Linked DNA regions of Homo sapiens: region 1 is linked to region 2. Evidence: fine-mapped expression QTL. Tissue or cell type: whole blood. Region 2 holds a variant in brackets; the other region holds the start of a gene. All regions are shown on one strand. Distances are from middle to middle.

Region 1 (6,170 bases), 38 kb after region 2:
AGACCCTGGTGCACCTCAATCTTGCTGGTAAGCACGGTCCCCCATCCGTCCTGCCAGCCTGTGGATCCCCACGGCCAGTGCCAACCCCTTGCTCACCTGCCTGGTCTCAGCTCCACTGCCCCATCCCCAGGTTGCCACCGCCTAACGGACCACTGCCTCCCGCTGTTCCGCCGCTGCCCTCGTCTACGCCGCCTAGACCTGCGCTCCTGCCGCCAGCTCTCACCCGAAGCTTGTGCCCGGCTGGCAGCTGCCGGGCCCCCTGGCCCCTTCCGCTGCCCTGAGGAGAAGCTGCTTCTCAAGGACAGCTAGTTGGGCGCCCCCCACCCTCCCCCGGACTCGACAGGAGCCTGGACCTCCGGCTTCATTTCACCCCTGCTGGGAGGCCAGGTTCCCACCTCACCACCCTGGGATTCCTGAGTGTCAGTGACTTGGGATTCCCACCCAGGGACTCAAGCCAGCCACCCCCTTCTTTCCCCCCTGCACTGATATCTCTGGGGGTTTCTCCTTCCTATGTCCTGCCCCTGCTACCTGCTTCATTGTCCATCCCCTGGGGGAGTGGGTCAGAGGTACTGGAGGGTGCTGAGCCGAAGGGACGGTGGGAGGGGGGTTATGGTGCAAGTGTTGGGGGGGAGAATGGGGAAAGGACACACACAGGATATGGGAGCCAGGGGCTGGGGGAGGTGGAAGGGGCGGGGGGCGGGGCAGACAGCAGACCACCAAGGGTTCAGGGAACAAAGACCAGTTACTTGGAGTGGGGGGTGGGGGTGGGGCCACAAAAGGAAAACCGGAGGAGCAATTGGGGATCCAGGTGTCAGAGGTAGGGGAACCAGGGGCAAGCTGGGGCTGAGCTGGAGGTGGGGATGAGAGCAGGTGTGGGGACAGCAATACCCCCTTGGGGGTCACCTCTCTGCTTCCCCCCTCCCCAGGCTTCAGTTCCTTCCCCCTGACCCTGACTCCTTGAACGTCACTGAAAACGGCAGCTATTGCAAGGAGTGGGGGCCGCGGGCAGCCGCTCTTCAGCTCGCGGCCCAGGGGAGTGGCGAGGGGCGCCCCAACCCCCTGCCCGCCTCTCCGCACAATACTTGAACATTCATCTGTACTGAAGTGTTACTTGAACCGGGGGAATCTCGGACCTGGGGGAGCCGGGGTGTGAGGGGACTGGACCAGCTTGGACTGAGACCTGAGACCGGGCCGGTGGGCGCCCATTTGGGACTGCGCCACCCCCAGGCTTGTTCTTGTTTTACTGTATTGAGCGGCGGCACCCGCCGGACCCGCATTATGGCTGGGGGCGCCAGCCCAAGAATGGGGACCATGGGACTCCTCCAGCCTGGCTCTTCCCACTCTTTCATCGTCATGGAAACTTGTATCCCATTTGCCCAGGGAACTGCCACTCCTGGTTGCCATGGAAATAGCAGCCAACGGACACCTCCCGATGCCAGTGCTAAGGCTGGAAATGGCCCCCTCTTAGTTGCCATGGGAACCTAGTAACAGACTCTGCTGGCCCTCCTTCCCTGCCCCTTCCTCGAGCGCGGGGTGGGGCTTCGGGACCCCGGGGATGAGCCGGGCCAGGTCCCGCCCCTCCGCGCAGGCCTCCGGGGGGCCGGGGCTTACCATGTAGGGGAGGGGAGATCTATCCACATACCTCAGGTAACAGGGAGGTGCGCGGGTGGGGGGAGGGCTGGGCGGACCAAAGGCCGGAGGGGTGGGGCCTGGGGATAGCGAGAGGCTTGAGAATGGGGCCGCTTGGGGGAGGGAAGAGGCAGCCCGGCGAGGGGCAAGCGGGGGACCCAGCCGGGCTGGGCCCCTGGGCCCCGGGTCTGTACAATACGGTTTGCTATAAAACTCAAAATCTTCCAGCCGGGGCTGCGGAGTTCGTGTGTGTATCTGCGGGGTCCCTACCTACAGATGAGTGGGCTCACCTCTCCTGGACTCATTTTGGGAGGGATTTGGAAGTGTGGACACCTGGGGTGTCCAGCTGTACCTTGGAGGGGGCTGGGGTTGGCGTGCACCTCGGTGGGGTCCGGGCGCTTGGATAACGTTCTTGGTGGGTAGGGGTCGCGGGGAATCTCTGCGGGCCCGGGACTGCGGGGACTTGGTCCCCGGCTCCACCCCATCATGTGGCTAGCCCCGGCTCCGCCTCTGTCCCAGTTCCTGTTTTGGCCTCCGCTGTCCCGCTCCGGCTCCTGGGGCTCCCCGCAGACGCTGCTTTTCTTGCTCCACTGGGGGTGCCTCTTCCTGGGCGCCCGCCGCCTGCATCCTGCTCGTCCTGTCTGGGAATGGGGCCGCCCCCGGGCTTGGGCCGGCCCGGCTGGGGCCCCCGAGGCGCTTCCGCCCCGTAGTGACCGCCTGGTGCCGCCCCCCCCCCAGGATGAAGGGCGGCGAGGGGGACGCGGGCGAGCAGGCCCCGCTGAACCCTGAGGGCGAGAGCCCTGCAGGCTCGGCCACGTACCGGGAGTTCGTGCACCGCGGCTACCTGGACCTCATGGGGGCCAGTCAGCACTCGCTGCGGGCGCTCAGCTGGCGCCGCCTCTACCTCAGCCGGGCCAAGCTCAAAGCTTCCAGCCGCACGTCTGCCTTGCTCTCGGGCTTCGCCATGGTGAGGGGCCGGGAGGGGTCACACCCGGTGGGGCAGAGCAAGTGGGGGGCACAGGTCGGGGGGGGGGCGAAGTAAACAGGTCCCAAGGGAGACAGGTTAAAGGGGGCTTTCGTCAAAGGGGGAAGGAACAAGGTCCCGCGGGACTGAGCAAGTCCCTTCTTACGGATGTGTGTGTACAGGGGACCCCAGGAGACGGGGCCACCGGAGGACACGAAAGTCCTAAAGGTGTCGTAGTGGGAGTGGGGTGAACAAATCGCTGGTGGGGTTGACTGCAACAGTGAGGCAGAGTGGTCCAGATGGAGCCTGTACCTGGCAGAAGTGGTTCCTAAGTCCCAGTGCCAGCTTCAAAGGCAGGTCAGCTGGGTGGGGGCTGCATCAACAGGTGGGGGGCTCGAGATGGATTAGCTGGGTGGAAGGGTCACCCAGCTGAAGGTGGGCCCGTCCCAGGGAAGGTGGCCACTCTCCAGCGGGCCCAAGGGGTGCTAGTGTCAACCAGGAAAACTGACAAGAGATCATGCCCGGGAGGGAACCGCTGGGGAAGGAGGCTGATGAGGAAACTGATAAGCGAGTCTCAAGCTGATAAACCCCAGGTGCAGGAGGACGGTGTTGGCTAACGGTCTGCCCCAGCAGTGGCCTCACAGGAAGTGGGATGGAGGGAGGTCCCAGGGTGAGGATCAGCAGACACAGTCCTGGCTCCTCCCTGCTTGTGGCCAGCTGTGTGACCCTGGACAGGCCTCCACCCCGCTTGCAAGCCAGTGGGAAACTGAGATCATGGAGGGTGCGCCCTCTGTAGCCAGCCAAGTAACCGCCCCAGGGTGAGCCAGGCATGTCAGAGCAGGTCACGTACCAAGGATGGCTCAGACTAGCCTGCTAATTGGACAGGTGTGGAAAGTAAAAGCCTTGCCTCTGGGCAGGAGCGAATGAACTGGGACCCAGGGTTGCTGCTCTGTTAGTCTGGGGTTGCCCCACCATCACCCCAGGAAAAAGGAGAAAGTGAGCTGCAGGAGGTACTTTGGGGAACGCACTCCTGTGGGGGTGGATATCAGAGGCGGTTGGGGTGGGGACCATGGCGCTAGGGGATCTGGGCTAGTCCCTGCCCTGTCTGTGCCACAACCTCCATATTTGAACAATGACAGGGAAACTCTCTAACCCTAAGGGTCATCATAAGCCTATGGTCTTCTATGTGGGGTCCCAGAATCCACAGACCAGCTTACCTTTCATGATGGGGGCATCACCTAGGGACAGGATGTTGGCTCCCCTTCATCTGCACAGCCTGCAGAGGGAAGGGAGCAGCCACCCAAGCTGAGGGAGGTCAACCCCATGGTCCAGCCTGTTCCCAAGGAGACAATCCCTCCACGGCAGAATATGCAGGTGCAGGTTGCTGGGGTGACAGCTTAAGGGCCCGAGCCTTCTCTGCAGGAGGAAGGGGCTGGAGGTTTAGGTTCCGGGGGCAGGACTGGCCGCAGTCCTAGCAGGGGTGACCGAGGCTGGGCCAGGCTCTGGGAGAAACCAGGACTAAGCCTGGCCCAGATCCCTGTCTGTGGAAAACACCTCCTGACACCTGCCATGGCCCAATTTCCCAAAATACTCAGCCCTGTTTTCCTACCTCCACCCGCCAGCCTCTACACCTACCTTCTTCTTTCCCCAGGCCCAGAGCAATCGAATGGACCCTACAAGAACCAGGGATGGGGAGAGAGTGGGCTTCTGAAACTCAGGTGGCCTAAGTTAGAATAGCATTATACAAATTGTATCCAGCTGTCACTAAGCACCAGGCACTGCCCTCAGTGCCTTTATATACATCATCTGTTAGCCTACAAAGTGGGTACTGCTACTCTGGCCATTTTACAGATGAGGAAACTGAGGATCAGAGATGTTAAGACACCTGCCCAAGGTCCCACAGCAAGTAAGTGGCAGGATTTGAGCCTAAGCCGTCTGGTTCCAGACTCCAAATTTATAAATTCCTAGAATAGGGTCATCAACTCAAATGTTTGCAAAGGGCCAGGCAGGTAATATGGATGCCAAATTGGCTGGGTAGGGACTAGCAAGCAAGAGACCCCATGACATTGGGGGTGATGGCTCACACCTTTCATCCCAGCACTTTGGGAGGCCAAGGCAGGAGGATCGCTTGAGCCTAGGAGCCCAGGAGTTCGAGTCCAGCCAGCCTGGGCAACATAGCAAGACCTGGCATCTACCAAAAAAAAAAAAAGAGAGACCCCATGACCTTTCCAAGGGGAGCAGCCATGACTGATTTGAGCTGATAGTTGCCATGCAGGAACGCAGGCCAAGTGTGGCTAGTTCTTCCAAGTTTTCAAGGGGATCTGGAAATAGGGATATAAGAAATCTCTTCAGTTTTACAAGTTGGCAGCATCTTCCATTTTTTAAGAAACACACTGTGTGAGCCAAGCAAAACACGTCTGCAAGCTGGCAGTGGTCCACAGTGTGCCGATTTGTAAACTCTGTCCTCAGACTTTAGCATTCACTATAGCAAGAACAGCAAACACATACCTAGTGCTTACTCTGTGCCTGGCACTGTTCTTTTTCTTTTTCTTCCTTTTCCTTTTCCTTTCCTTTCCTCTTTCTTTTTCTTTCTTTCTTTTCTTTCTTATCTTTCTTTTTTTTTTTTTTTTGAGACAGAGTCCCACACTGTCACCCAGGCTGGAGTGCAGTGGTGCGATCTCGGCTCACTGCAACCTCTGCCTCCTGGGTTCAAGCAATTCTCCTGCCTTAGCCTCCCAAGCTCCTGAGTAGCCGGGATTACAGGCGCACACCACCACGCCCGGCTAATTTTTATATTTTTAGTAGAGACAGGGTTTCACCATGTTGGCCAGGCTGGTCTTGAACTCCTGACCTCAGGTGATCCGCCCAACTCGGCCTCCCAAAGTGTTGGGATGAAAGGCGTGAGCCACCACTCCCAGCCCATTTCATGTATATTTCATTTAATGTTTATACCAACCCTATAAGGCAGGGAGGTGCTGTTATCAATCTCTATTTCCAGATAGGAAATTGAGGCACACAGAGAACTGACTTGCTCAAGATTACACAGCTAGAGCAGAGAATGATCCCAGGCAGCCCAGCTCCAGAATCTGCTGTTTGATCCCTATGCAGTAAACCTGTTAGAAGCATGTCATCCAGCCCTTTTTTTTATTTTTATTTTTAATTTTTTTTTGAGACAGAGTCTTGCTCTGTTGCCCAGGCTGGAGTGCAGTCACATGATCTCGGCTCACTCAAACTTCTGCCTCCTGGGTTCAAGCAGTTCTCCTGCCTCAGCCTCTCAAGTAGCAGGGATTACAGGCATGTGCCACGATGCCCGGCTAATTTTTGTACTTTTAGTAGAGACGGGGTTTCGCCATGTTGGCCAGGTTGGTCTCAAACTCCTGACCTCAGGTGATCCACACACTTTGGCCTCCCAAAGTGCTGGGATTATAGGCATGAACCGCCGCGCCCGGCCATCCAGCCCTCTTGATAGGGAGGTGGGGAAACCAGAACAGAACAGAGCCTTTGCAAAGCTGTCCATTCGTTTACTCAACAGAGACTGAATGTCTCTGGTTTCTGCCAGGCACAGTTCTAGGTCCTA
Region 2 (7,859 bases):
AATTGTCCTCTCAAAGATCTGGTCCAAGCTGGGCGCAGTGGCTCATGCCTATAATCCCAGCACTTTGGGAGGCCAAGGCGGGTGGACCACAAGGTCAGGAGTTCGAGACCAGCCTGGCCAATATGGTGAAACCCTGTCTCTACTAAAAATACAAAAAAATTAGCCAGGCGTGGTGGCAGGTGCCTGTAATCCCAGCTACTCAGAAGGCTGAGGCAGGAGAATTGCTTGAACCTGGGAGATGGAGGTTGCAGTGAGCCAAGATCAAGCCACTGAACTCCAGCCTTGGTGACGCAGTGAGACTCTGTCTCAAAAAAAAAAAAAAAAAAAAAAAGGCCGGGCACGGTGGTTTATGCCTGTAATCCCAGCACTTTGGGAGGCCGAGGCTGGCAGATCACGAGGTCAGGAGTTCAAGACTGGCCTTGCCCACATGGTGAAACCCCATTTCTACTTAAAAATGCAAAATTAGCTGGGCATGGTAGTGTGTGCCTGTAATCCCAGCTACTCAGGAGGCTGAGGCTGGTGAATCGCTTGAACCCAGGAGGCGGAGGTTGCAGTGAGCTGAGCTCTCGCCATTGCACTCCAGCCTGGGTAATAGAGTGAGACTTCGTCTCAAAAAAAAAAAAAAAAGAAGAAGAAGATCTGGTCCAGTTTATGTTTCTACCAACAGTGTGAGGCTCGGAGAGGAGGAGAATGACCTAAGGTCACCACCCAGGAGAAACAGAGATGAGAGGCAAACCCAGGGCGGCCTCCTTCATCCCCCTTGCCACATTCCTGAGTTCCCAGAGTTCAGTAGCAACTCAGAGAAGCCTGAGAGGGAAGACCATTTCATTCCTTCATTTCACAAACTTCGGGCTTGCAGTGGTTCACACCTGCAATCCCAATATTTTGGGAAGATCGCTTGAGCCCCAAGTTCGAGACCAGCCTGAGCAACACAGGAGATCCCATCTCTAGAAAAAGTTAAAAAAAAAATATGTCAGGTGCAGTGGTTCATGCCTGTAATCTCAGCACTTTGGGAGGCCGAGGCAGGTAGATCACTTGAGGTCAGGGGTTCGAGACCAGCCTGGCCAACATGGTGAAACCCTGTCTCTACTACCAATACAAAAATTAGCCAGCCGTGGTGGTGGGCACCTGTAATCCCAGCTACTCGGGAGTCTGAGGCAGGAGAATCACTTGAACCCAGGAGGCAGAGGTTGCAGTGAGCTGAGATCATGCCACTGCACACCAGCCTGGGCAACAGAGCAAAAACTCCGTCTCAAAAAAAAAAAAGAATTAGCATAACCTGGTGTCGTACACCTGTGGTCCCAGCTATTCAGGAGGCTGAGGCAGGAGGATCACCTGAGCCCTGGAGTTTAAGGCTGCAATGTGCAAAGATTCTGCCACTGCACTCCAGCCTGGGCCACAGAGCAAGACCCTGTTTCAAAAACCAAACAAACCAACAAAAAAAGCCACAGTTGGATCACTGCACCACTTTCTGTCACACTAGCTTTACAATTTTCTTGTTAGTACACATATTATGTGTCTGCAGAATGAAATTTCCATGAGGCCATGGATTTTTGTCTGTTTGTTCACTGCTGTCTCCCCAGATGCTTCCAACAGTACCTAGCACATGATAGGCATTCAATAAATATGTGTTGAATTAATGATGAAGGAAGCCTTGATGTAGGGGGATTTGGAGGTTTTCAGCAGGTGCAAAGAGAGCTGGACACCTGAGTCAGAGAGAGGAGGGGCTCTGCGGGTCCCCCTGTCCTGTGTCTCTGGGGCCTGGCGCTCCTGCCCCTCACTCACCCAGTGAACAGCTCATGCTCTCTCCTCGGCTTCTTCCTCTCTGCAGCCTCTGGGTCTTTCAGGACACCTGTCCTTCTGCCCCTCAGGTGTCTTTATACCTGGGGCTGAGCCCTGGGGTGGCCCAAGAGGGAGGGAGGGAGTCACATCCTGGGGAGAGGGGCAGGAGCAGGCAGGGCCCTGGCAAAGAATGAGAGACAGACCTGGCCACCAGACAGGACAGGGAGCGGGTGGGAGGACCCAGAAGGGGGACATATGTTCCGCACGGGGAGGCCTCGTGTGCAGAAGCCCCAGAGGAAGGAAATGGGTAGGGAAGGGGACACAGATGGGACCCCCAGGCCCCTCCAGCTCCCAAACTCGACCCTAAACCCTGGTGGCTGGGAGGGAGGGGGCGAGGGCGTGATGGGGATTATCCAGGGACAAAGGGGCCGCCCCGCTCCCTGCTGTTCTGCAGGTCCTGGGATCCAGTTTCCCAGAGGAGGCCGCCCCCTGCTCCGCCCCACAGGGACCCAGGCGCTGGGCCCGGGCTCCCAAGGAGTTTGGAAAAAGGACAGGAGGGATGGTGTGTGAGCAACATCATCGTCCACACCCAGGTTCACCCTTAGGCACAGGAACAGTCACACGTCTACACAGGCATTGGCACGTGGGCACACACAGGCATGAGCACACACTTTCATGCGCTCATTCATTCAGGACTTATGGGCCCTGACTGTGCACCAGTCCCTGTTTTAAGTGCTGGGGACAGAGTATGGAACAAGACAGACAAAAATCCGTGCCCTCGTGGAGCTGACACTTTAGTAGACATGGGTACATATATGTGGGATCATGCCAGGCCTACACACATCACACACACAGTCCCAGACACACGCGTGCACACAGGGGAACCCATAGTGCATCCCTGGGGGCCCAGCCAGAGGCACCTACACAGAGCAGACGTGGGACACACACCTCATGCCCATAGATGCACGCAGAGGTGGGGACCAGGGGTCATGGGATCTGGCCACGTCTTAGCCTCTGATACACTAGGAGATCTCCTCCCTCTGCCCAGGCACAACACACTTGGACTTACACACACACACCTAAGACACTGTCCCTCGGGGAAGCCTTGCAGCAGAGGGGCAGGGTCGGAGAGGCAGATGCTGGGTTCTGGTCTTTCTCCAGTACTCCCCCAAACTCTCCATCATGGAACCAATGTTAAGTTCTCATCCCTGCCACCCCCTGAGTCAGGCAGTGATCGGTCAGACTCCCACCCTAGTGGGCTGGAATACTGCTCCACCCTAGCTTCCCTGGTCAGGTGGTAACCTGGAGGCAGAGGGGCCCACACAGTCACTCAAGAGGTGTTTTATTTTTATTTTTATTTTTTATTTTTGCGACGGAGTCTCACTCCGTCGCCCAGGCTGAAGTGCAGTGGCACGATCTCGGCTCACTGCAACCTCTGCCTCA[C/T]CTCCCAGGTTCAAGTGATTCTTCTGCCTCAGCCTCCCGAGTAGCTGGGATTACAGGCAAGTGCCACAACGCCCAGCTAACTTTTATATTTTTAGTACAGACAGGGTTTCGCCATGTTGGTCAGGCTGGTCTCGAACTCCTGACCTTGTGATCCGCCCGCCTCAGCCTCCCAAAGTGCTGGCATTACAGACGTGAGCCACTGTGCCCGGCCAACAGGTGTTTTTTTTTTAAGAGACAGGGTCGGCCCGGCCGGACACAGTGGCTCACGCCTGTAATCCCAGCACTTTGGGAGGCCGAGGCGGGCGGATCACCTAAGGTCGGGAGTTTGAGACCAGCCCGACCAACATGGAGAAACCCCGTCTCTACTAAAAATACAAAATTAGCCGGGCATGATGGCGCATGCCTGTAATCCCAGCTACTTGGGAGGCTGAGGCAGGAGAATTGCTTGAACCTGGGAGGCAGAGGTTGCAGTGAGTCGAGATCACACCATTGCACTCGAGCCTGGGCAACAAGAGCGAAACTCCGTCTCAATAAAAAAGAAAAAAAAAAAGGCTGGGCGCAGTGTCTCACGCCTGTAATCCCAGCACTTTGGGAGGCTGAGGCGGGCGGATCACGAGGTCAGGAGATCGAGACCATCCTGACTAAAAAACAGTGAAACCCCGTCTCTACTAAAAATACAAAAAATTAGCTGGGTGTGGTGGCGGGCACCTGTAGTCCCAGCTACTCAGGAGGCTGAGGCAGGAGAATGGTGTGAACCCAGGAGGTGGAGCTTGCAGTGAGCTGAGATCACGCCACCGCACTCCAGCCTGGGCCACAGAGCAAGAATCCGTCTCAAAAAAAAAAAAAAAAAAAAAAAAAAAGAGACAGGGTCGGCTGGGCGTGGTGGCTCATACCTGTAATCTCAGAAATTTGGGAGGCTGAAGTGGGTGGATCACTTGAGGTCAGGAGTTTGAGACCAGCTTGGCCAACATGGTGAAACCCTGTCTCTACTAAAGATATAAAAATATTAGACAGGTGTGGTGGCACAGGCCTGTAATCCCAGTTACTAGGGAGGCTGAGGCAGGAGAATCACTTGAACCTGGGAGGCGGAGGTTGGAGTGAGCTGAGATCGTGCCACTGCACTCCAGCCTGGGTGACAAAGCAAGACTCCATCTCAAAAAAAACAAAAAAAAAAAAGAGAGAGAGACAGGGTCTTGCTCTGTTCCCTAGGCTGGACTGCAATGGCACCATCATAGCTCACTGTAGACTCCACCTCCCAGGCTCAAGTGATCCTCCCACCTTGGCCTTTCAAAATGTTGGGATTACAGGTGTGAGCCACTGCACCTGACCCCAGTAGCTATTAACACAGCACCTACTGTGTGCCAGCACCAGGGTGAATAATGAGGCAGGTAAGGTCCCTGCCTCACGGGTACACAGTCTGGTCGGGGAGACCAGCACGAAACATGTGAATTAACACACAGCAAGGTTTCCTAAAGTGACATGGTGCTGAGAAGAAGCCCAGACAGGTTGGTGTGATGAGCTGGGTGTTCGGAATACTTAGATAAGGAGCCTGAGGCCCAGAAAGGGGCGGCTACTTACCTGGAGTCACACAGCAGAGTCAGGGCAGATGCTGGACTCCTGTCCCCAGCTTGGGGCTGGCTGTGGGGTTCCAGATCTGAACTGTGAGCTGAAGGAAGGAGGAGGTTGAAGGAAAAGATGGATTCTGAGGTGAGGGGTCCTAAACAGGCTCTCCAAGGCTGGGGGCTGCTAGGGCTGGCCGGCAGGGCCTGTGCCAGGCAGGTGGTGATATCAGGGGATTATAGGAGGCCCATTAAGTGGGTGCACCGAGGCATGGGCCGTGCCATGGTAGTAGAGCAGGGGGAAGAGGAGGTACAGGAGGGGGAGAGTGAGGCAGATACTCGATCTGGTACTATTCACAGGTGGACGGCCTACATGGGGCAGGCCTCACCTGGGAGGGCAGGCTAACCCCACCAGAGCCCACCACCACCCGCCTCTCTCTGGGGCTTCCCTTTCTCTCTCTCTGACCCCCACCCCAGGTGGCTTTTGTTTTTGTTTTTGTTTTTTGAGACGGAGTCTCGCTCTGTTGCCCATGCTGGAGTGCAGTGGCATGGTCTAGGCTCACTGCAACCTCCACCTCCTGGGTTCACACCATTCTCCTGCCTCAGCCTCCCGAGTAGCTGGTACTACAGGTGCCTGCCACCACGCCCGGCTAATTTGTTGTATTTTTAGTAGAGACGGGGTTTCATTGTGTTAGCCAGGATGGTCTCGATCTCCTGACCTCGTGATCCACCCTCCTCGACCTCCCAAATTGCTGGGATTACAGGCGTGAGCCATGGGCCTGTCTTTTTTTTTTTTTTTTTTTTTTTTTGAGATGGAATCTTGCTCTGTCACCCAGGCTAGAGTGCAGTGGTGTGATCTCGGCTCACTGCAACCTCCACCTCCTGGGTTCAAGTGATTCTCCTGCCTCAGCCTCCCAAGTAGCTGGGATTACAGGCACATGCCACCACACCTGGCTAATTCTTATATTTTTAGTAGAGACGGGGTTTCACCATGTTGGCCAGGCTGGTCACAAACTCCTGACCTCAAGTGATCCTCCTGCCTTGGCCTCCCAAAGTACTGGGATTACAGGCGTGAGCCACCACGCCCAGCCCCCTCAAGGTGCTCTTCACATCTGGAGGAATTAGCCGCATCCCAGGCCCAGCTCTGTTGTCCAAGGCATCTGTCTCGGTAGAGGTCAGAGGTCAGCAGCTCTGCCCCCTCTACCCCCATCGTGCCCCACCCTGCAGGCCAGCTCATCTTCTGTTTTGGTTACACCAGAAGCTGAATTCTTGGGAATCCCAGCAATTTAGGAGGCAGTGGGCTTCGGTTCAAGTCCTGCCTTTGTTCATCTTTTTTGTTTGTTTGTTTTGAGACAGTCTCACTCTGTCACCCAGGCTGGAGTGCAGTGATCTTGGCTCACTGCAACCTCTGCCTCCCAGGTTCAAGCAATTCTCGAGCCTCAGCTTCCCAAGTAGCTGGGATTACAGGTGTGTGCCACCAGGCCCGGCTAATTTTTTGTATTTTTAGTAGAGACGGGATTTTGCCATGTTGGTCAAGCTGGTCTTGAACTCCTGGCCTCAAGCAATCTGCCCGCCTTAGCCTCCCAAAGTGCTGGGATTACAGGCATGAGCCACTGCGCCCAGCTCCTGCCTTTGTTTATCACTAGCTTGGACAAGTTCCTTAACCTCTCTGAGCCTCAGTTTGCTCCCTTATCTGGAAACTGGGATAATAATTCCCACTCACAGGTTCTAACTCACAGGGCACACCCACCAAGTGCCCTGACCCCTCCTATGAGGCCTCTCCTGGGCTTGTCAAGGGTTGCCCCAGTAACATATAATGCCGCCAACCAATGGCAAAGACTCAATGTCCCATGAGCCTGTGCCTGGAGCCCAGCCCCATGCCCCGGCTACACATGTGCTCCCAAGAGATCTGGTACCTTTGCTCAAGCATGACCCAGTGTTGTCCAGAAAACCACACAGTGGGGCCCATTCAGAACAGAGGCAAGGGTGCTGGGCGCAGTGTCTCACACCTGTAGTCTTAGCACTTTGGGAGGCTAAGGTGAGGGGATCGCTTGAGGTCAGGAGTTCAAGACCAGCCTGGGCAGCATAGCAAGACTCCTGTCTCTACAAAAAAATACAAAAATTAGCCAGGCAAGGTGGTGTGCACCTGTAGTCCTAGCTACTCGGGAGGCTGAGATGGGAGGATTACTTGAGCCTGGGAGGTCAAGGTTTCAGTGAGCTGTGATCACCCCACTGCACTCCAGCCTGGGTGACAGAGTGAGATCCTGTATTTAAAAAAAAAAAAAAAGGCCGGGAACGGTGGCTCACACCTGTAATCCCAGCACTTTGGGAGGCTGAGGTGGGCAGATCACAAGGTAGGAGTTTGAGACCAGCCTGGCCAACATGATGAAACCCCATCTTGAACCCGGGAGGTGGAGGTTGCAGTGAGCTGAGATTGCGCCACTGCACTCCAGCCTGGGCGACAGAGCAAGACTCTGTCTCAAAAAAGAAAAAAAAATAGTACTTAAGAAAAAGATTAATAACGTTATCATTATTGTTAAAATACCTGTTCATTAGAAAACTTGAAGCAGATCATAAATGAACAAAGAAGAAACCAACAAACCACCCTATTTTACCACCCAGAAATAACTATGACTGTTAACATTTAGTGAGCATCATTCTAGACACCTGATCAGATAAATAGAAAAAGATTTTATGACAATCAATTAATACTAGATATCCTATTTTTAAAATTACATTTAACTTTATTTGAATTTAACAAAAGGAACAGAAATAGAAGTTTAATTGAAAGAACTGTGGAACTTCAGATAAATGTTTCTTCACTATAAATAATATTTCCTGTAAGATTCTTCCAAGTTTAAAAAAAAAGATTTGAAAACCATGAAGGATAAACTCATTATTTATTTATTTATTTAATTTTATTTTTGTGAGACAAGAGTCTCGCTCTGTTGCCCAGGCTGGAGTGTAGTGGCACAATCTTGGCTTAATGCAACTTCCACCTCCCAGGTTCAAGTGATTCTCCTGCCTCAGCCTCCCGAGTAGCTGGGATTACAGGCGCCTGACACCACACCAACT

Evidence for each region. PIP is the estimated chance that this variant, and not a neighbour inherited with it, causes the effect.
Region 1: ORAI3 starts here. The variant in region 2 is fine-mapped to the expression of ORAI3 in whole blood (TOPMed, PIP above 0.99).

Annotation. Positions count from the first base shown.
Region 1 is chr16:30,946,922-30,953,091 of GRCh38, forward strand. ORAI3 (ORAI calcium release-activated calcium modulator 3) reads left to right here and starts at 2,147. Exons shown (of 2, transcript NM_152288.3): 1 at 2,147-2,596. The coding sequence starts at 2,369. FBXL19 (F-box and leucine rich repeat protein 19) reads left to right here. Exons shown (of 11, transcript NM_001382779.1): 10 at 1-27; 11 at 131-1,862. The coding sequence ends at 309. RefSeq lists silencers at 1,573-1,822, 2,193-2,452, 2,493-2,542 and enhancers at 2,466-2,984, 3,273-3,502, 3,503-4,020, 6,080-6,170.
Region 2 is chr16:30,908,408-30,916,266 of GRCh38, forward strand. It overlaps the pseudogene CTF2P. Among named protein-coding and RNA genes, the nearest start is that of FBXL19-AS1, 11 kb to the right of the region's middle. The variant C/T (reference allele first, on the strand shown) is at 3,226.